Homo sapiens: one gene and its partners. The protein of the gene in region 1 purifies or fractionates together with the protein of each later gene. This does not show direct contact. Each region holds a gene or a part of one and is shown in the gene's direction. Other genes may lie near its edges.

Evidence for each region.
Region 2: the proteins of GIMAP2 (region 1) and PRMT8 purify together in Homo sapiens (affinity purification with mass spectrometry; 2 studies listed by BioGRID and IntAct, with this or other methods). This does not show direct contact.
Region 3: the proteins of GIMAP2 (region 1) and TOR1B purify together in Homo sapiens (affinity purification with mass spectrometry; 3 studies listed by BioGRID and IntAct, with this or other methods). This does not show direct contact.

What each region holds. Positions count from the first base shown.
Region 1 is NC_000007.14:150,688,603-150,694,149, forward strand, and holds the end of GIMAP2 (GTPase IMAP family member 2), read left to right. Parts: intron 1-3,712; coding exon 3,713-4,698; 3' UTR 4,699-5,039; downstream 5,040-5,547. UniProt on the Homo sapiens protein: The heterodimer formed by GIMAP2 and GIMAP7 has GTPase activity. In contrast, GIMAP2 has no GTPase activity by itself.
Region 2 is NC_000012.12:3,536,187-3,543,297, forward strand, and holds part of PRMT8 (protein arginine N-methyltransferase 8), read left to right. Parts: intron 1-4,419; coding exon 4,420-4,605; intron 4,606-7,111. UniProt on the Homo sapiens protein: S-adenosyl-L-methionine-dependent and membrane-associated arginine methyltransferase that can both catalyze the formation of omega-N monomethylarginine (MMA) and asymmetrical dimethylarginine (aDMA) in proteins such as NIFK, myelin basic protein, histone H4, H2A and H2A/H2B dimer.
Region 3 is NC_000009.12:129,798,371-129,806,228, forward strand, and holds the start of TOR1B (torsin-1B isoform 1 precursor), read left to right. Parts: upstream 1-4,813; 5' UTR 4,814-4,842; coding exon 4,843-5,041; intron 5,042-5,702; coding exon 5,703-5,968; exon of another isoform or gene 5,969-6,109; intron 6,110-7,858. UniProt on the Homo sapiens protein: May serve as a molecular chaperone assisting in the proper folding of secreted and/or membrane proteins. Plays a role in non-neural cells nuclear envelope and endoplasmic reticulum integrity. May have a redundant function with TOR1A in non-neural tissues.

The sequences.
Region 1 (5,547 bases):
CAGCCTGAACTCTGGTACCTTCCAAAAGTCCTCCTCTCCCTTCCAGCTCTGCCCCCTCAACCCTCATGCTAGTCCCTCCTTCCCCATCAGGCAGGAGGATGGGTGACTGGAGAAAGAAGGTGGAGTGCTTGAGTCCCATTGTCCTTGCAGTTGTCTCCTGGCTAGTCCTCACCGCCATCCCATGCCCCATTACAGCAGACACCCTCCACTGTGCGAGAACACTGTGGAGTCGCCACAGGGCTAAGTTGCAGGCTTCCCGCCAGAGGCTGCGCCCTCTCTGGCAGAATTCTCCAACTAGACCTCTGCTCCCACCCTCATGGCACCCCTGGCTTCCTCTTGTAATTGCACTCCGCTTGCCATACAAGGCAGGCCTTTGGACAGGGCCTCATCAAGGCAGCTGTGCCTAGTTATTTTCTGTAAGATCCCTTCTGTCCATGGGAAACCCCCTAAGCCATTGCTGCTTACTCCTTATCCTGGTCTCCTAGGTGGCTCTAGTCAGCCTTCAAAATTTAGAATTCTCCAGAAAGGAAATAGACACCAATTTCCATGTTTATACATGTCTCCAAACTTCAGGTTACATCTAACTCCTCTCAAAAATTTGCTCAAGAATTCTCTTCACTTTGCTGCACTTGGATAGGCTTACCAGTTTCTGTCATTCAGCAGACACCCATCTGGGAAATGACCTACCTATCTCTCAACTTTGGTGACATGCCCAATATTTATGAGTGGATGATTTAGAGACCCTCTCACTTGGCTTTGGATGCAGAGAATTCTCTTCCCTATACCCTCCCCATGGGAGAGAATGAGGTAGCACTCCCTAGGAGGCCAGCAACTCAGGACTCCCACCGCTTCTCTTCAATGACTCCCTTCATTTCTGTTTTCATAGGCGAGAGGAAGGTTAAACGTGCAATTTGGCTGCCTCTAAGCAAGCTCCAGCGCGGTGTATCAGGAGCTGCTTGGCTGCTGTTTTCAGAATATAGAAATGTGTAATGTAATGCCTGCTTCCTTTTAAGTACAAGTGTCCATTGCATGTCTACTGTGAGGCCATAATTTCACTGGCCTACAGAAAATAAGATTAAATGTCCATAAATTTTGGCCAATTTGTCTGGAAGAGAAAATACTTAAATATGTGCAACAAGTGTTGGCGTAGCAGCATGGCAAAGCACTAATACTTCAGGCATAGAAAACGGGCAGGTTCAAATGCCAGCTTTTTCATTTACAAAACTGGTTACTTTTAATGGGCTCTAAGTTATTGGGCAAGTTGCAGATTTATGTGTAAAATAAGGTGAATAAAAGGAACCCATGGGTAAAAAGGTTGACAAACCCTTTCCCTTTCTGAGAATTTAATCTTTGGTTAAATGTTTTAGCTGAGATTCTCTAATAATTTAATAAGAGTAAAATGTCTCTAACATTATTAGGAACTTTGCTTATGGTTGAAAACTTCTCTTGATGGGTGAATTATATCTATACTGGAAGAACTATAAATACATGCTAGGAAGCTATGTTTTGAACTTCCCTGAGCACAGTGACTCTTGTAACTCTCATGTTCCTTGCAGGGAATCTGGAAGCTAAACCCCAGAGTTGCTACAAGAGACATTGGCTCCTGTGAGTCCAGGTGGCTTCTATAACTGCTCAAGATGCCATCTCCTTGCCCTGGGACCTCCCTAGGTGACAGTTTGCAGTGTTCCATGAATTGCTGCATAGACTTCCACTAGGTGGAAGGCCCAACATTGTCCCTCTGGCAAGCGAAGTTTTCCATTCTTCTGAGTAGACTAGTGTCCCAGTGAGGCCCATGGCAGTCCTGTGAGCCCGAGAGGTCATTTGAACCAGCTAAGAACAAGACCACTGGTGGGCATTGCAGCACCTAACCCTAAATCATATCATTGCTAGGAGGAGTAAATTAGGTAATGCAGGTAAACCACTTGGAACAGATCCTGGCACATTAAAAGTGCTCAATAAAGGGTAGATTTCACTAACTATTTAGGTGACTTTGTCCAAGTTACTTAACCCCTGCATGCAAGTTACTTCATCTATAAGGAGGTTGCTATAAACAATCCTAGCCTAATTTTCACCAAGTGCTTAAGTGCACCAGCACTCTTTTAAGTTCTTTACATATATTAACTTATTTAGTCATTAGAACACCACCACATGGAGTAAACCATCATCTTCTCCAGATGAAGAGAAATTAATCAGTTGTCCAAGATCATATGACTAGCAATGGAAAGACAATCTAAACTAAGCAATCCAGCTCCAGATTCTTTTTTTCTTCACCACTGCATGCTGCCTCTCAGAAAGCTCATTTTCTTTGTACAGTCTAAGTTCCTTCTAAGCTCTGATATTCTGTGGTCAATGTAGACTTTCCTTCTCCAACTTTCTCTCTGCAACATGAGAGTAAGGAACAGCTAAACCGCAAAAGGCAATGAGCTTAGCAGGAGAGTCTTAGTTTGTTTGGATATTCCCTCCAGAAAGATTCTCCTGTTATCATGGTATTCCGTTTCACTCATATAGGTCAAATGTTCCTCCCTTACAGTAAAGGAATCAAGGGGTTAACCCTCAAGAGCCAGAGTCACCCTTGCCTTGCAAGTTAAATCACTCCTCTCTCCACTACAAAGCTGCATCTTGGTTCTTCCATGAACCTGCCCTAGACAAGTCATTCTTATCACTGCCATGTGGACCAGCGAAATGGCACCATGGCTCCTATGCCTTCCCCTTTTATGTGTCTGAAACACATTTTTTCCCTAAAGCCTCAAGCTCCTTCATACCTCTGTCCCCATTCACTCCTCTCCCCAGAACCTTACCCACGTTGAAGGGAAATGGGGAAGGAGAGAGGAAAGTTTACCATATTCTGTGACTATTTTATACCAAAATTATGCCATGCTTTCTAAGCAAAATTATGATATCCTTTATAAGATATCAGTTGTTTCTTCACTAATAAAAATAATTTTACACTGCTCATTCTAATATTTTGCTGGTCCAGCCACTTCCCTGGTAGTCATGACCCCACTCTGCCCAGCCAAGGTCAAAGTAGCAACCTCTGGCCTTGAAACAGAGCCAGGTCACTTGGCCCACATTGAGATGGAACCCATGGCCTTGCCTACGCATCTCTGATCTCCAGAAAACTTTTCTTCTAGAGATCCAGGACTGAGTGATTCAGGCAACCATTACATGATGAGAAATGTCTCTAAATCCATCTCATCCCCAAGTATGTTTTCCTAGGCTCCAACATGGCAATACCCTGCAGTCCTACAGCAATCAAGTTAGCTTTCATTTCACGTGAAATAGATGTGCGAGTATCTTTTTACATAACGGGGAATACCTCCTTATCATTAAAAATATTCCACTACCGGCTGGGCCCGGTGGCTCACGCCAGTAATCCCAGCACTTTGGGAGGCCGAGGCGGGCGGATCACGATGTCAGGAGATCGATACCACGGTGAAACCCTGTCTCTACTAAAACTACCAAAAAAAAAAAAAATTAGCGGGATGCGGTGGCGGGCATCTGTAGTCCCAGCTACTGGGAGGCTGAGGCAGGAGAATGGCGTGAACCCGGGAGGTGGAGCTTGCAGTGACCCGAGATCACGCCATTGCACTCCAGCCTGGGCGACAGAGCGAGACTCCGTCTCAAAAAAAAAAGAAAAAGAAATGAAAGGAAAAAAAAATATTCCACTGCCGTGATCAGTGTAGCGATAACACAGTAAACTTGCTCCTCACAGGACCACATGCAAAGGGCCAATGTGCCAGCAGATCTGAGCTGAGAATCATCCTGGTGGGCAAAACAGGAACTGGCAAAAGTGCTGCAGGGAACAGCATCCTCAGGAAGCAAGCATTTGAATCGAAGCTGGGTTCCCAGACCTTGACTAAGACTTGCAGCAAAAGTCAGGGAAGCTGGGGAAATAGAGAGATTGTCATTATTGACACACCAGATATGTTTTCTTGGAAGGACCACTGTGAAGCTCTGTACAAAGAGGTGCAGAGGTGCTACTTGCTGTCTGCACCAGGACCCCATGTGCTGCTCCTGGTGACTCAGCTGGGCCGCTATACCTCACAGGACCAGCAGGCTGCACAGAGGGTGAAGGAGATCTTTGGAGAGGATGCCATGGGACACACAATTGTCCTCTTTACCCACAAGGAAGACCTCAATGGTGGCTCCCTGATGGATTACATGCACGACTCAGATAACAAAGCCCTAAGCAAGCTGGTGGCAGCATGTGGTGGGCGAATCTGTGCCTTTAATAACCGTGCTGAAGGGAGCAATCAGGATGACCAAGTGAAGGAACTAATGGACTGTATTGAGGATCTGTTGATGGAGAAAAATGGTGATCACTATACCAATGGGTTGTACAGCCTAATACAGAGGTCTAAATGTGGACCTGTGGGATCAGATGAAAGAGTAAAGGAATTCAAACAGAGCCTTATAAAGTACATGGAAACTCAAAGAAGTTACACAGCCTTGGCTGAAGCAAACTGCCTAAAAGGAGCCTTAATCAAAACACAACTGTGTGTTTTATTTTGTATTCAGTTGTTTCTCAGATTGATAATTCTGTGGCTTTGCATACTGCACAGCATGTGCAATTTGTTTTGTTGCTTACTCTTTAGTATGTGCAATTTATTCTGCAGTTTGCTGTTTATTATACCCAAAAAGTTAATGATATTTTTGAGAACAGTTATTAGACTAGAACGCAAGACTCCTAGGTTATAGTTACAGATCCCAGTTATTATTTACTCACTATCATTTAGTGGGTGAATCACAGTAATTTCCCTGTAAAATGTGGTACCTGAAGTCATATTTGAGATTCTATGAAATGTTTAAATCTGAACATCACTCCAATTATTAATGAACCAAATCATACGATAAGTTACTGTTTGCATTGAAATATAATATCAAAGCCTTTTGAAATCTGTAAACATAAAATTCCTCTCATTTTCAAATATCTAAAGCCAGTTTTATGTTCCTAAAATCTCATTTTCTTCTTTCTAGTACTACTATTTCTACTGAATATAATGAAAATGGCAATAAAATAATATTACATAAACTGTAAAGTTCCTTTGATCATATGTTGTTAATTCTCTTCTATAGTTTTCTCCTTAGAAAATGGTAAGTGGACATGACTCATGTTAGCCAGATTTTAGCCCTGACGTCCTACAGATTTATCACTGAAACATAAGTAAAGACAAATGTCAGAAAAGATAGCAAATTGGACTGGATATTCTGAAGCATCATCTTGCTAGATGCAAATAGAGGCTACATTTATTAAAAGAAACAGAATTTTTATAATTGATGAGTTCACCAGAAAAATAAAGAAAATTCCAAAGGTAGAGCAAACAATATTTTTTTTTAAATGAGGAGCACAAACTGGAGTTGAGGCCCATGAGGAATACATGAACAAGGAAGGCAGAGGTGACCGATAGACAAATGCCGGTACCAATCCTAAGATGAAGAAATCAATCTTGGGCTGTCAGTAAAATTGGAGAGCTGATTTGGAGTGTTCTGTATTAATTTAGGACCTTCCAGGAGACTAAAGTTATCCAAAATTAGTTGAATTATTGA
Region 2 (7,111 bases), on another chromosome or scaffold:
ATCACCCCATGTAGCTGAATGTTCAGGGATCACAGGCCACGGCTGCTTCCCACCCACTCCCAGCCTTCAGGGAGAGGGTATGCCTGTCAGCCAATGGGCAGAGTGCCAGGCTGCAGACCAGGGTCTGGGCCAGTCATTTATTTGTCCCCATGACCTGTGGCTATTGAAATGAATGCCCCCAAATCCATGCATCCTTTTGCCTCCTGCATGGCACACGGCAGACACTTCATAAGCTGGCTGTTGGGGAGAGTCTCAGGGAGCCCCATGGAAAAGAGAACCTTGGAATCAGAGTTGAATGACAGCTTATGGGTGCTGGAGGCCCCTGTGACCTTGACCGTGCACAATGCCCAGGCCAGCTAGGACTTTTTCCTCTCCTTAATATATTTAAATGGAGTCAATACTGGGGTCAGCTTCATGCACACAGCCTTCTTCAGCCCTAGAGGTGAGGTGATCTGCACAGCTTCCTGAGCAGGGTCCTCCCTGGTGGCTGAGGTGTGGAGGGCCCCAGCCAGGCTGGATGGAGGTTGACTTTGTTTCGGAGCCCTTGCTTGGACACCGGAGTGCAATGCTCGGGCCACACATCCTTGGAGGAAGGGCAGCCTGGAAGTGGTGGAACAATCTGTCATGATCATATTTTTGTGTAATCAAACACTCTTCCCATAATACCTTTAATGGCCGCATAGTGTTCTATTGTGTGGCTACACCACAGTTTAATGTCTCACTTTGTGGAACATTTCAGTTGACTCCTACCTTTTGTCACTAAGGACAGCATTGTCATGAAATTCTCAACAGCTACATCATTATGATGATCCATGATTCTCTTCTTATGGTAAAGTCCACAGAACTTCAATTGCTGGGTTAACGGATTTGTGCTCTTTAACACTTCAAGTACATTTTACCAAACGGCCTTTCTAAAAGTCTTGACCTATTTTCATTCCCACTAGAAATGTGTGAAAGGACCTATCTCTCTGCAACTCTTACATATGCAGAGCTGTGGTTGTTTTGGTGGGAGAAGAGCTTATCTGGTATTTAAAAGCTGTAAGTTTTCTATTTGAATTTGAATTTACCTGATTTCTAATGAGGTTAAACATTTTTGTTGCACATCAACCTGCCATTTGTATTTCACATGTACTTGCCTCATGTGGACAGATTATCCAATCCTTTCCCCAATATTACATTGTGGGTGTTCATCTATTTTTGTATTGGCTTGTAAGAGCTCTCTACGTATTAAGGGCATTAACCTTTGTCTGCCACATATGTTAAAACGTACTTCTCGGTTTATCATTTGCCTTTTAATTTTGTTTATGATATTTATTGTCTGGAACTGCATTAATGTCTTCTTGCTAGACATCTTCTCTTATATGACTCAATGACATTTCAAACTCTGCATATCCAAATTGAAATTCATTATTTCCCCCCACCCCAACCTGCTCTGCCTGCTGACTGGCTTATTTTTGTTAATGTCACCACCATTTCCCTAGTCACCCAGGCTTGAAATGTTGAAGTCATCTTTGATTCCAGCTCCTCTCTCTTCCCCTACATTTTGTCAGTTGCCAAAGCCTGTAGAGTCTATTTCTGCACTTTCTCTGGCAGGCAGCCCCTCGGACACCCCAGTAGTTCAGGCTCTCATTATTTCTTGACTGGACTTTGAACATAGCCTCCAAAGTTCATACTTTGCCTCTCTTCCATTCCCTTCTTTTCCTTGGCCCCTCCTGTGTGCTGCTACCACATCTATCTTCCTAAAGAGGAGCCCAAACACAGAAGTCACTGCTTCCCTGGTTACAAACCGGCAATAGCTCCCCGTTGTCTTTTGTATTTAATTACGACCTCTTAGCCTGGCCATAATTTCCTTTCAACTGAATCTCTCACTGTCTCAGCCAAGCTGCTCCCAAACAAACTCACTGCTCTCCCGCCTTTTGGTTGCTCAAGCCGTCTCTTCCTCCACCTGCCAAAATCCGTTCAAAAAGCTCCCACCTCACCCCACCTCCTGCTATCCCAGGGCTTCCTGACTCTCTGCATTAAAGTGAATTCTCTTTCCTGTGAACCTCCAGAACAATTTGCTTGAACTTCTCTTGTAGAACAAACCTTATTCCAGCATCTATCAGAGACAATAAGGGTCTTAGAATCTAGAAAACAGGGTCCTGGGAGGGCACAGTTCCCACACGTCTATTTCTTCCACAGGACCTGCACGCTGCCTTGCTGTTGGAGATCTGTGCAGTAGGCAGTTGTGGAATTAAAAGCAACACCCCATGTCGCTGAATGTTCAGGGATCACAGGCCACTGCCGTTTCCCACCCACTCCCAGCCTCCGGGGAGTCTTAGCCTGTGGAGTCCCAGGAAGCACATGGAAAAGAGAGCCTTGGAACCAGAGTGGAGTGACAGCTAAGGGGTGCTGGAGGCCCCTGTGACCTTGACCATGCACAATGCCCAGACCAGCTCCGACTTTTTCCTCTCCTTCACATATTTAAATGGAGTCGATATTGGGGTCAGCTTCATGCACGGAGCCTTCTTCAGCTTTAGAGGTGATTCTGCAGCCTGCACAGGAGTGTGCACTTGACACAGTCTATTTTTAGCCTCCCAGAGACCGTGACCAACATCCCAAGCTGAGAGTGGGCACACCTGCTGCATTCTAATGAGGCAGCCCCACTCGCCTTTGCCAGCCCGCCCGGGATCTCACCGACGTGAAATCTGATGTTGCTAAACTGGGAAGTCTGCTTATTTCCCAAGGGCGGTAGCCTAGGTACACTGGGAAGATGGGACCATCCCACTGCCCCCAGCTCACTCCCCTGCAGCCCTGGACACAGAACAGTCTTGGGACTGCGCGGAGTGATTCCACGGAGGGGTTGAAATAACTTGGCTTTCTTGATCTTGCTGTGTCCTAGGATTCCCCTGTTTCTCTTGCTAGAAAGGAGACAGTAAGTCTGAGCTGACCCAGCTCACAGACAAGAAAATCGAGACATAGAACAAGGACATGATGTATGTAATAATCATAAGCACTTACTATGTGCCAGCCTGTTCTAAAGTCTTTCCATATATCAACTCCTCCAAACTTTTGGACAAATTTTTCAGGTAGGTTTTATTATGATTTGTGTTCTATAGAGGAGGAAAAGCTGAGGCACAGTGATGACAAATTATTTCCCAAGGTCACACAGCCAACAAGCGCTGGGTTTCAGAGTCAGGCACTGTGGCTCCAGGGTTTGTACTTTCAGCCAGTTCGCTATCTGCCTCCTAGTATCTATTTTTAATTTTACTAGAGCCAGGATAGGACCCAGGAGCCTGGATTCCCAGCCCTAGAGGACTGACTACTAGATAATACTCCTTTTTTTATTTTTCTAGTTCAGCCCTGCTTTGAGGCCTTTACTGTGCCTTGTACATCTGGGTCTCCTGCACTCCAGGCAGAGGAGGTCTCCTGGCATAACTGCTTCTGTTGCAGTGTTTGAGCTTCTGGGCTCCAATTGCTGTCTCTGGGCTCCAGAAGCTCTGTGGACCCCCATCTCCTTCTCCCTGCTCCGCCTAGCCTGTGGAGGACCAGGGAGCAGACAGTGATGGGCAGCAGCAGTGGGTGTAGAGCTGGGCTGGGCCTCAGGATTGGGGCACCCAGAAATAGCAATAATTGGTTGTGTGGAGGCCATCAGTGTGGGTATCCACAGTGCTGAATTCAGGGTAGAACTGTGAATCAGAAACTAGGGGGCAAGACAACAGGTAGGAGACACCAGAACCTAAGACATCTGCATTTTGGGGGCCGTATCCTCTTCTAGCTTGATGCTGCCTGTTGAGTGGAGAGAAGCCCATGGGTTCACGTTCCTGAGGATGCAGGTGGGACTTCGTTTCCTCTAACAAACTCTTACTATATGCCTGGCCCTTTTCTAAGCACTTTGAAATACAAACTTGTCTAATCCTCAGGACAACTCTAGGAGGCAGGGACCATTTTATTCCCATTTTAGAGAAAAGGAAACTGAGGCACTGAGAAGTTCATAAGTTTGCCCAAAGTTGTATAGCTGGGAAATGGCAGAGCTGGGATTCAGCTCCGGAATCTACACTCTCAGGCACCATGCTGTGCTATGCATCTTTCCCTTTATTGAATGTTTCCTATTTGCCTTCAAAGGAAGATACTATTTTCCCCATTTCACAGATACAGAAACTGAGGCCTGCATTGCTCAGGTCACCTAGCTAATAAGAGCTGAAGGTGGGTGAAATCTAGGTGTGTGTGGCTCCTCGGTGGACTGCCATCTCTGGACAGATCACAGCCATGAGCCCAACTGCTGGGAGCTGGAAGGGCTCACCTACCTCCCTTTCAGGAAGGGCTGCTGTGGCTGCTTGAGGCCGGGCTCAGGGAGGGGGAAGGAAAGAGGACCGCAAGCCTCCGAGGGCGGGACCCCGTTGTCTCTCCTAACACCCGACCCCCTTCTCTTCCCCTCAGGTGAACAGCCCCCCCTCCCAGCCCCCCCAGCCCGTCGTCCCTGCTAAGCCCGTGCAATGCGTCCATCATGTGTCCACTCAACCCAGCTGCCCAGGACGGGGCAAGATGTCCAAGCTGCTGAACCCAGAGGAGATGACCTCGAGAGATTATTACTTCGACTCCTATGCCCACTTTGGGATCCACGAGGTAAAGTGTCCCGAGTGGGTGGCTAATGGGGCGAGGCTGACTCTGCTGTTCTGTTGTTTTCAGAGGCAGCATAGTGTGTTCAACTCCTTACCATGGTAAAGGGAGTGCTCCCAGTGTTCCTGAGTCCTCTGACCCTTTCTCCAATCCGGGGGGCCCCTCTGGGAGGGGGCCAGGCCAGGCCTGGAGCAGGGGAGCAGGTGAAAGTGTGTGTCTGTATACTCCACAGCCAGAGAGAGCACACAAGGTGCTTACGGTCCATTTGTTTTACATTCCAGCTCCCGTGTCTCTCCCCAGCCATAAACCCAGCTCATCCATTGTGGGCTGGATAGCGCTGGTCTTTGGACCAGGAGCTCAAATGCTGCAGTCAGAGTCCTGAGGCAGCAAGGACCTTTCAGAGGTCATGATGTGCATTCTTTTGACCAATGAGCACCTCCGGGGGAAGAGCTGCAGGAAGCTTTCTTGGGAGCTTGGCCCAGGTCTGACACCCTGATTGATTGTCTGGAAATTCTTATGTCTAAATGCCAGTTTACCCCATAGCAGGGAAGACTAATGTTGACTATGGAACAGAACAGAACCTCCTAACAAGAGGCATCCTGGCCATAGTGGGGGCCTAATGGTGCCCCTACTGTATATCTTTCATTATAATCTCCAGCACTCTCTCCAGCCACCCCAAATAAACAAGTAGGATTTACTGAGTGCTTGCTAAGTGACAGGCACAGTTCTAAGCACATTATACGTATCATTTCATTTAAACTCTATGAAGAAAATATGTCCGTGATCCTCTTACAGCATAAGAAAAAATTGAAAAAGGAACAAAAGTTTGCTTGCTGTGCAAATCGGTTTTCAAAACAAGTCTTGAAGATCTTCCTTCCACGTACTCACTGCTGTAAACTCTTCCTATGTGGAAATGATGACCCTGCCATTGCCGGAAGGGTGTTTAGTAATAATAGCCAGCTCTTTTGTTTGTTTGTTTCGTTTTAGTGCTTACTACGTGCTGGTGTTGTTCCAAGCATTTTATATTATTGGTTCATTTATTCTTCAGGTCAATCCTGCAAGGTTGGTGTTATTGCTTGTCCCCATTCTCCAGATGATTTAGGCCCTTAAGAATCAAATCAACCCTCATTCATCCTTGACGGTTTTTTTGTGTGCGTGTGTGCGTGTGTGAAAGGCCACAAGCTAGTAGATGGCACAGCTAGCAATCAAACCTTCACCTTTTGTTCCTAACCATCATGCCATACAGCCCTTAAAACAAGTTTCCTTTCTTTCCATCTGGAAACTGTAAAAATTAAATTGCCATATTTGTTCCTGCTGGTTCTTCTGCAGCCCTACATGGAGGTAGAGGGTGGAAGGAGGCCCCCCAGTTACTTCTAGACTCAGGGGCTCAGCCTCATTTAATCCAGGGAGGCTCAAGGTTTGGGTCCCTGAGAACTGTTCACCATGTAAAACCATTAAGCCTGGACCTGCAGGGGAGGAGGACTGGGGCCTGTGTTCGGTCCAGAAGGTCCTGGCCCAGGAGGGCCTGGACAGCTGAGCCTGCAGCTTCTGGGAGATAAAATGCCATCTCAGGGCAGATGGATGAACTCTTACCCCTTCCTTGACCCTGCTCTCCACTGGGCTAGGGATTCCTGGAGCCCCATCCTTGGCCTGTGAGAGGCTCTTGGGGGCAAAAGAGACTCTGCGAAGGCCCCTTCCTCAAGACCTTGTCCCTAATTAAAAGTCATGTTCTCCATGTGACAAGTTCTAACAGGCCTGTGGCTCTGGGTACCCATTTCAGGACAGATTCTTGGGAAAAGAGAGCAGTTCCAGGGACCCCAAAATGTCTCCTCTTGGGCCTGCCCAGAACTCCCCCATTAGAAACCAAACAACCATGAGGTGCACCTCAAGCTGGGTCTGCAGTCTCCCCTCCCCACTCGGAGCCTCCGTGATCGGCTTCTTGGACACCTCCCTCTGAGTTGCTAGGTTCCTGCTGAGCCACACCTTTGGCGTTTAGAGTGTGCTCCACTAGGCTATTACCGATCTCTATAATTCCTTTGGGACTTGGTGTCCCCAGCCTGTTACCTACAGCTTGGCACATTGTCTGGAGAGCAAAGGCTTGTTGACATGGCTGCTAATCCAGTCATTCAGGCGATGCCTGGTCAGCACCATGACCCAGCACCCAGGGGAGAGGACATCAAGTTTCACCAAATAAATACTAGACCAGTTTCCCTCAATTGTGTGTACTTATGGAAAAGTCAAGCTTGTGCATACGTATATATAAACATAGTGCGGGCTGAGCAGGGGACTTAGAGTATAAGACCTGTGAGTCATAGATCACATTCCTGTCCTGGGAGAGTGCTTAGCAGCCTTCCCATTGGGAAATACTTCTGGACATCTAGCTTAAATCCCTCCTGCTGCTGCTATAGACCATCTCATAGGTCCTTTAATGCAGGAACAGCTAGGTAACCTTCCTTCCCCCCGAGGTCTCCTTTTACCCTGTTTTCAGTTTCCCAGATCATCTGCATGAAAG
Region 3 (7,858 bases), on another chromosome or scaffold:
TGGAGTGCAGTGGCACGATCTCGGCTCACTGCAACCTCTACCTCTTAGGCTCAAGTGATTCTCTTGCCTTAGCCCCCCGAGTAGTTGGGATTACAGGCACCCGATACCACACCTGGCTATTTTTTGTATTTTTTAGTAGACAGGGTTTCACCATGTTAGCCAGGCTGGTCTTGAACTCCTGGCCTTAAATGATCCACCTGCCTCCCCAAATGCTGGGATGATTGGCGTGAGTGACTGTGCCCAGCCCCTCAAGCCTTTTTTTTTTTTTTTTTTGAGATGGAGTCTCACTCTGTCGCTCAGGCTGGAGTGTAGTGGCATGATCTGAGTTAACTGCAACCTCCGCCTCCCGGGTTCAAGCGATTCTCCTCCCTCAGCCTCCCGAGTAGCTGGGATTACAGGCACATGCCACCATGCCCGACTAATTTTTTGTATTTTTAGTAGAGATGGGGTTTCACCGTGTTAGCTAGGATGGTCTCGATCTCCTGACCTTGTGATCCGCCCGCCTCGGTCTCCCAAAGTGCTGGGATTACAGGCGTGAGCCACTGCGCCCATCCTCAAGCCCTTTTTATAAGGGTATGAATTCCATTAATGAGGGTAGAGCCCTCTTGGCCTAATCACCTCGAAAAAGGCTCCACCTCTTACGACCACCACAATGGAGACTAACCATGGCACCAATCCACTTGTGTCTTGCAGGACATCGTGTGTATTTTGCTTGATGAATATCAGTTACTGAGTTTTGTAATTCCAGATCTATCTAAACACCACTCATCAAATCCTGCCAGCACCCCGGTATAATCCTTAAAGACAACAAACATTTCCTTTGTGAGCTAAACTGTCTCTCCTGACTTGTGAACTTCACAGGATGGTTGAGAGGGTCAAAGGAGGTGATAGTCCCAGCAAATGGTTCCTGTTGAACTCTTACTCTATGCGGTGCTAAGTGCTCCACGTGCATCAGCTCACTGGTACCCCAGCAACTCCAAGAAGGGACTGTTGTGATCCCCACTTTACAGTTAGGGAAACTGAGTCCCAGAAAGGTGGCATCACATTTCCAGAGCCACTCAGCTAGGAAGAAAGGGAACAAACCAGGTTGTGATTTATAATCCCAACCTCCTCTTCTCCCTCCCAACTCCTGATGCTGCAAAGCCTCTGGAGACAGCAGAGCTGCCCCTTTGTCCCACGTGGCTGCGCCCTGATGAACACACCGGACTTGTCCAAGGCAGCCTCTTGGTCCTCAGGGTCAGCTGGAGAAGCATTTCAATTAGACAGACAGCATGGCCCTGGGTGCCAGGCTGCTTGTTAGACGGCCCTTGGAGAGATGCCGGGACAGCCTGACTCTTTCGGGCAGTGGTGGTGACATTCCTTGTGGTGGGACTTTCCTGCCTTAGGCCAGGCCTCTTCAGCCTGGGGTATGTGACCCTCTGAGGTAGGTGAAGACTTCCTAAGGGTGCATAAGAGTGGATCACTCTAAGGATCCTAATTCCAGAAACTCAACCTCTTTCTTCTTTCCTCCCTGGGTATGGCACCGGTGGCCCCAGCGGCCCCATGCTCCTTCTCATTTCCCCTTTCCCATTGGACTCTGGCTACTTGGAAAGGGGAAAAGTCACTTAGTAATTTCTTCCTATGGATATATGAAGTAAATGGAAAAAAAAAAGAGAACCCCAACCATCCTATTAAGAGATACATTTTCCATACACTTTTAGTTATTTAATTACTTATAAAAAGTTTGTGGGCTAAGAGTGGTGGTTCACATCTGTAATCCCAGCACTTTGGGAGGCCGAGGCAGGCGGATCACTTGAGGTCAGGAGTTCCAGACCAGCCTGGCCAACACGGTGAAACTGCATCTCTACTAAATCTCTACTAAAACTACAAAAAGTAGGCCGAGCGCGGTGGCTACACCTGTAATCCCAGCACTTTGGGAGGCCGAGGTGGGCAGATCACGAGGTCAAGAGTTCGAGACCAGCCTGGCCAACATGGTGAAACCCCGTCTCTACTAAAAACAGATGGGCATGGTAGTGCACACCTGTAATCCCAGCTACTGGGGAGGCTGAGGCAGGAGAATGGCTTGAACCCAGGAGGCAGAGGTTGCAGTGAGCGGAGATCATGCCACTGCACTCCAGCCTGGGTGACAAAGCGAGACTCCATCTCAAAAAAAAAAAAAAAAAAAAAATAGCTGGGCATCGTGATGCACACGTGTAATCCCAGCTACTCGGAGGCTGAGGCAGGAGAATTGCTTGAACCTAAGAGGCAGAGGCTGCAGTGAGCTGAGATCATGCCACTGCACTCTGCACTCCAGCCTGGGCAACAGAGTGAGCTGCTGTCTCAAAAAAAAAAAAAGTTTAAGCCACTTCCCACGGCCAACTTCTATTCTTTTTTTTTTTCTTCTTTTTTTTGAGACGGAGTCTTGCTCTGTCGCCCAGGCTGGAATGCAGTGGCGCAATCTTGGCTCACTGCAACCTCTGCCTCCTGGGTTCAAGCCATTTTCCTGTCTCAGCCTCCCGAGTACCTGGGATTACAGGCGCGCACCACCACACCTGGCTAATTTTTGTATTTTTTGTAGAGACGGGATTTCACCATGTTGGCCAGGCTGGTCTCGAACTCCTGACCTCAGGTGACCTGCCTGCCTCGGCCTCCCAAAGTCCTGGGATTACAGGCATGAGCCAGTGCACCTGGCCCTTCCATTCATTCTTTAGATCGCAACTGAGATAGGGAGGAGAAGATCCCTCCCCACCCACAGGCCTCTGTGCATCCTGCATTACAGCCTTGGCCCACCCTGGACATAAGCTGCCTGCTTGCTCATCTGTCTCCCTGACTAGTTACCTGGACCACGGCAACAGCCTCTTCACTGGCTCTCTGCCTTCCATTTCTTGTGAACCCAGCAGCCAGAATGATCTCTGATCTGACCATGTTGCTTCCTGTGTAAAACCCTCTGTGGCTCCCTATTACCCCCCAGAACAGAGGCCAAACTCCTTACAACATTCGCAAGGACTTCACCTTCCAGTCTCTGCCTGATTCTTCATCCCTATCTCTCACCACCTTCCGCCATGTGGAATCCTTTCAGTTCTCCAAACTGACTGTTGTTTTCTGCCTAAAACACTCTACTCATTTTTTGCCTGGCCTAACTCCCTCAGTGCCCAGCTTAGACAAAAGCCTTCCCTGTACCACTGTCCGATACTTCTCTGCCCACTCAGCATTGAGTCTCACCCCTTTGTCGGCCTCCCCCATAGACCGTCAGCTCTGAGAGGGCAGGGGCCAACTCCGTCCCCTCCTCTGCTGTCGTTCCTGGCATCCAGCAAGGGGCCTGCCACCTAGCGTGCTGAATGAAAGAATGGACCTCGGGATTTCAGTGTGGAAGCCTGGGCAGGTCTGTCTTGGGGCCGCTGCATCCCCAGTGCTCAGTCTAGGGCGCAGCACGGAGAGTTCGCAACTGTTTCAGGAAGAAGGCAGGCGGGTGGGCCGACCCAAGAAACGCACATTATACCTCCGGCGAAGTGAAGGGAGGGATAACAAAGCAAAGCTTGAGGGCTCCGAGAAGCTCTGAAGAAAACAAATCCAGCCATAAGCCCACTCCTGTAACCCCAGGCTTTGGAAGACGGAGGCAGGTAGATCGCTTGAGGTCAGGAGTTCGAGACCAGCTTGGGCCACATGGCGAAACCCCGTCTCTACTAAAAACACAAAAGTTGGCTGGGCGTGTTGGCGGGCACCTATAATCCCAGCTACTCCAGCAGCTGAGATGGGAGAATCGCTTGAACCTGGGAGGAAGAGTTTGCAGCGAGCCGAGATCCTGCCACTGCGCTCCAGCCGGGGCGACAGAGCCAGACCCTGTCCCCAATATACATATCAGATAAGAAAAAAATATAAGAAAGTTTAAAAAAATTTTTTTTGGCTTTTTTTTGTTTTTTTTGAGACGGAGTCTCGCTCTGTCGTCCAGGCTGGAGTGCAGTGGCACGATCTCGGCTCACTGCAAGCTCCGCCTCCCAGGTTCACGCCATTCTCCTGCCTCAGCCTCCCGAGTAGCTGGGACTACAGGCGCCCGCCACCATGCCCGGCTGATTTTTTCTATTTTTCGTAGTGATGGGATTTCACTGTGTTAGCCAGGATGGTCTTGATCTCCTGACCTCGTGATCCGCCTGCCTCGGCCTCCCAAAGTGCTGGGATTACAGGCGTGAGCCGCCGCGCCCGGCCAGCCTTTTTTTTTTTTTTTGAGACAGTTTCGCTCTTGTCGCCCAGGCTGGAGTGCAGTGGCACGATCTCGGCTAACTGCAACCTCCGCCTCCTGGGTTCAAGAGATTCTCCTGCCTCAACCTCCCGAGTAGCTGGGATTACAGGCGCCCGCCACCACACCCATCTAATTTTTTGTATTTTTAGTAGAGACGGGGTTTCGCCACGTTGAGCAGGCTGGTCTCGAACTCCTGACATCAGGTGATCCGCCCGCTTCAGCTTCCCAAAGTGCTGGGATTACAGGCGTGAGCCACGGCGCCCGGCCAAAAAAAAAAAATTTTTTTTTTTTTTTTTAGATATTTTTTCACTCTTGTTGCCCAGGCTGGAGTGCAATGGCGTGATCTCGGCTCGGCCTCCCAAAGTCCTGGGATTACAGGCGTGAGCCACCGCGCCCGGCCCGAAAAAATTTTTTTAAAAGAAAAGGGAAACAAAACAGTCTCCTACACCTTCGGACCACTCCCAAGAACGATGGCACCGCCCTCCTCTCCGCCCCTCACCAACATGGCCGCCCCCAAGGGAGTGGGCGGGTCTGCGGGGCGGAAGTGACGCACGAGAGGAAGTCCGTCCTGCCGCTTGGCCGCGGGGCGCCTGGCTCAGTGGCTTCTGCGGGCTTCGAGGAGCGGGATGTTGCGGGCTGGGTGGCTCCGGGGCGCGGCGGCGCTGGCGCTGCTGCTGGCGGCCCGAGTGGTGGCGGCGTTCGAGCCCATCACCGTGGGCCTAGCCATCGGGGCCGCGTCGGCCATCACCGGCTACCTGTCCTACAATGACATCTACTGCCGCTTCGCCGAGTGCTGCCGCGAGGAGCGGCCGCTCAACGCTTCGGGTACGGCGCGCGCGCGAGCTGTGGGTCGGCGCTGCGGGGGGCGCGGGGGCGCGGGGGCGCGGAGGGACGGCCTCGTGGGCGCCTGGCACGGACCGGGCCCGTGGCATCTAGACGGCGGTGGTCCCAGCTGGGGTGGGCGGGGAGCGGATGGGGCGGCCCCGGAACCGTTCGCGGGAACGCAGAAGCGGTGCCTTCGCAAACAGTCTCCAGATCGTGGGGCTGCCCCAGCGCCTTTCTAAAGCTCCCGTTCCTTGGGATCACAGGTGGAAGAAACGGAAAGTAGGCGGGCGGCCCTTCTGCGCCCTGCCAACCCTATTAAGTAGTTTTCAGACGTGCTGCGTCGCCCAGAAAGCCCACATTTGGCCCCTGGTTTTCCTGCAGGTCAGCAAGGGTGGCTGGGATTAGCAAGCGCTCAGTCAAGCGATGGTTCATCTCTGAATGAATGAACATTTAGCTTCCTTATCAGACCCCGAAGCGTTAAGGACCTCCACATAATCTTGAAAGTGGCATCGTTTGACTGCCTCGGCCCTAGGGTGTGGCAGACACCCTGCTGTGTCCCTGGATAATCTGTGCTTCTTGCTTTGGCCAGCTAAGAAAGTGCTGCGTTGCTGATGCATTTTTAAGGTCTGTTTCTCTCTTTGTTCTGGGGCTGTTCTTGCAGCTCTCAAGCTGGATTTGGAGGAGAAGCTGTTTGGACAGCATCTAGCCACGGAAGTGATTTTCAAGGCGCTGACTGGCTTCAGGAACAACAAAAATCCCAAGAAACCACTGACCCTTTCCTTACACGGCTGGGCTGGCACAGGCAAGAATTTTGTCAGTCAAATTGTGGCTGAAAATCTTCACCCAAAAGGTCTGAAGAGTAACTTTGTCCACCTGTTTGTATCGACTCTGCACTTCCCTCATGAGCAGAAGATAAAACTGTACCAGGCAAGAGAACCCGCTATTATCTCGTCTGCAGGCCAGTCGGACTGGTCCGGGTGACCTGCTCACTAACTCTGGCCTCTGCTTCTCTTTCCTTTGTGTTGCTGTAGCCCCCGGCTCCACTGAGTTAAGGCACACTTAGTCCAGGTAGTTACAAAGCTCTCCTACAACATTTCTCTTACTTGGTTCCAAAACAGTCCAGTGGGGTAGGGGATGTTATTTCCATTAAAAGATGGGGAGCCAAGGGCCTGGCGCCGTGGCTCACGCCTGTAATCCCAGCATTTTGGGGAAGCCGAGGCGGGCGGATCATTTGAGGCCAGGAGTTTGAGACCAGCCTGGCCAACATGGTGAAACCCCATCTCTACCTAAAAGTACCAAAATTACCTGAGCACGGTGGCACGCACCTGTAATCCCAGCTACTTGGGAGGCTGAGGCAGGAGAATCGCTTGAACCTGGGTGGCAGAGGTTGCAGTGAGCTGAGATCGCGCCACCGTACTCGGTCTCAAAAAAAAAAAAAAAAAAAAGGCCTGGCACAGTGGCTCACGCCTGTAATCCCAGCACTTTCGGAGGCCGAGGGGGGCGGATCACGAGGTCAGGAGATGGAGACCATCCTGGCTAACACGGTGAGACCCCGTCTCTACTAAAAATACAAAAAATTAGCCGGGGATGGTGGCGGGCACCTGTTGTCCCAGCTACTCGGGAGGCTGAGGCAGGAGAATGGCCTGAACCCGGGAGGCGGAGCTTGCACTGAGCCGAGATCGCGCCACTGCACTCCAGCCTGGGCGACACAGTGAGACTCTGTCTCAGAAAAAAAAAAAAAAAAGAGAGATGTAGTCAGGGCCAGGTGCAGTGGCTCACGCCTGTAATCCCAGCACTTTGGGATCCGCCAAGGCGGGCGGATCACCTGAGGTCGGGAGTTCGAGACCAGCCTGACCAACATGGAGAAACCCCGTCTCTACTGAAAATACAAAATTAGCCGGGCGTGATGGCGTGCGCCTGTAATTCAAGCTACTTGGGAGGCTGAGGTTGCAGTCAGCTGAGAATGGGCCACTGCACCCCAGCCTGGGCAACAGAATGAGACTCTGTCTCAAAAAAAAAGAAAAAAAAAAAAGATGGAGCCTGGAGCCCAGAGGCAAGGTGACTTACTCCTACAATCTTTGTAGCAGAACAGGACCTTTGTAGCAGAACCAAAACCTCCCAACTCCCAGTTGACATGGTAGCCACCTTCTCTGGTGAGTGAAGGGATTCCACATCCCCAGCAGTGCAGTTGGTGAGAAGGGGCAGTCAGTCTTCAAGGATTTGCTCCGGTGTGGCTTCATTCAATGCTGCCCACCTCTGGTGCAGCCTCAGCTTTGCCTCTGCTCTTTGCAATGTAGCCTAGAGGTCTTTTTTCTCCTTAACAGGTTTTATTCCCTTTGTTCCTCCCATCCTTCATGTCCTTGGCATTGCTTTCTTCAAAGGAAGCCTCAAAGAACTGAACCTTGAGACTGTTTCTCCTTTTGAGATATTGTTTCCACATTCATTTTATATTAAGTTGTCTAGGAGGGTTAGTTCTCATTTAAATGAATGTTGTCCTTGTCAAGGTTAACATTCCCACTGGCAACATAGCAAGACTCCATCTCTACAAAAAATAAAAAAATTAGCCAGGTGTAGTGGCATGCACCTGTAGTCCCAGCTACTTGGGAGGCTGAGATGGGAGGATCGCTTGAGCCCGGGAGGCTGAGCCTACAATGAACCATGGTCATGTCACTGCATTCCAGTCTGGGCGACAGAGTAAGACTCTATCTCAAAAAAAAAAAAAAAAAATTCCTCCTGTTAGGTGGGGACTGAAGAAAGAAATAGAAACTTAACTGAACAAGGAAGTAGAAGTGTTTGCCCAACAAACTGACGTGAGAC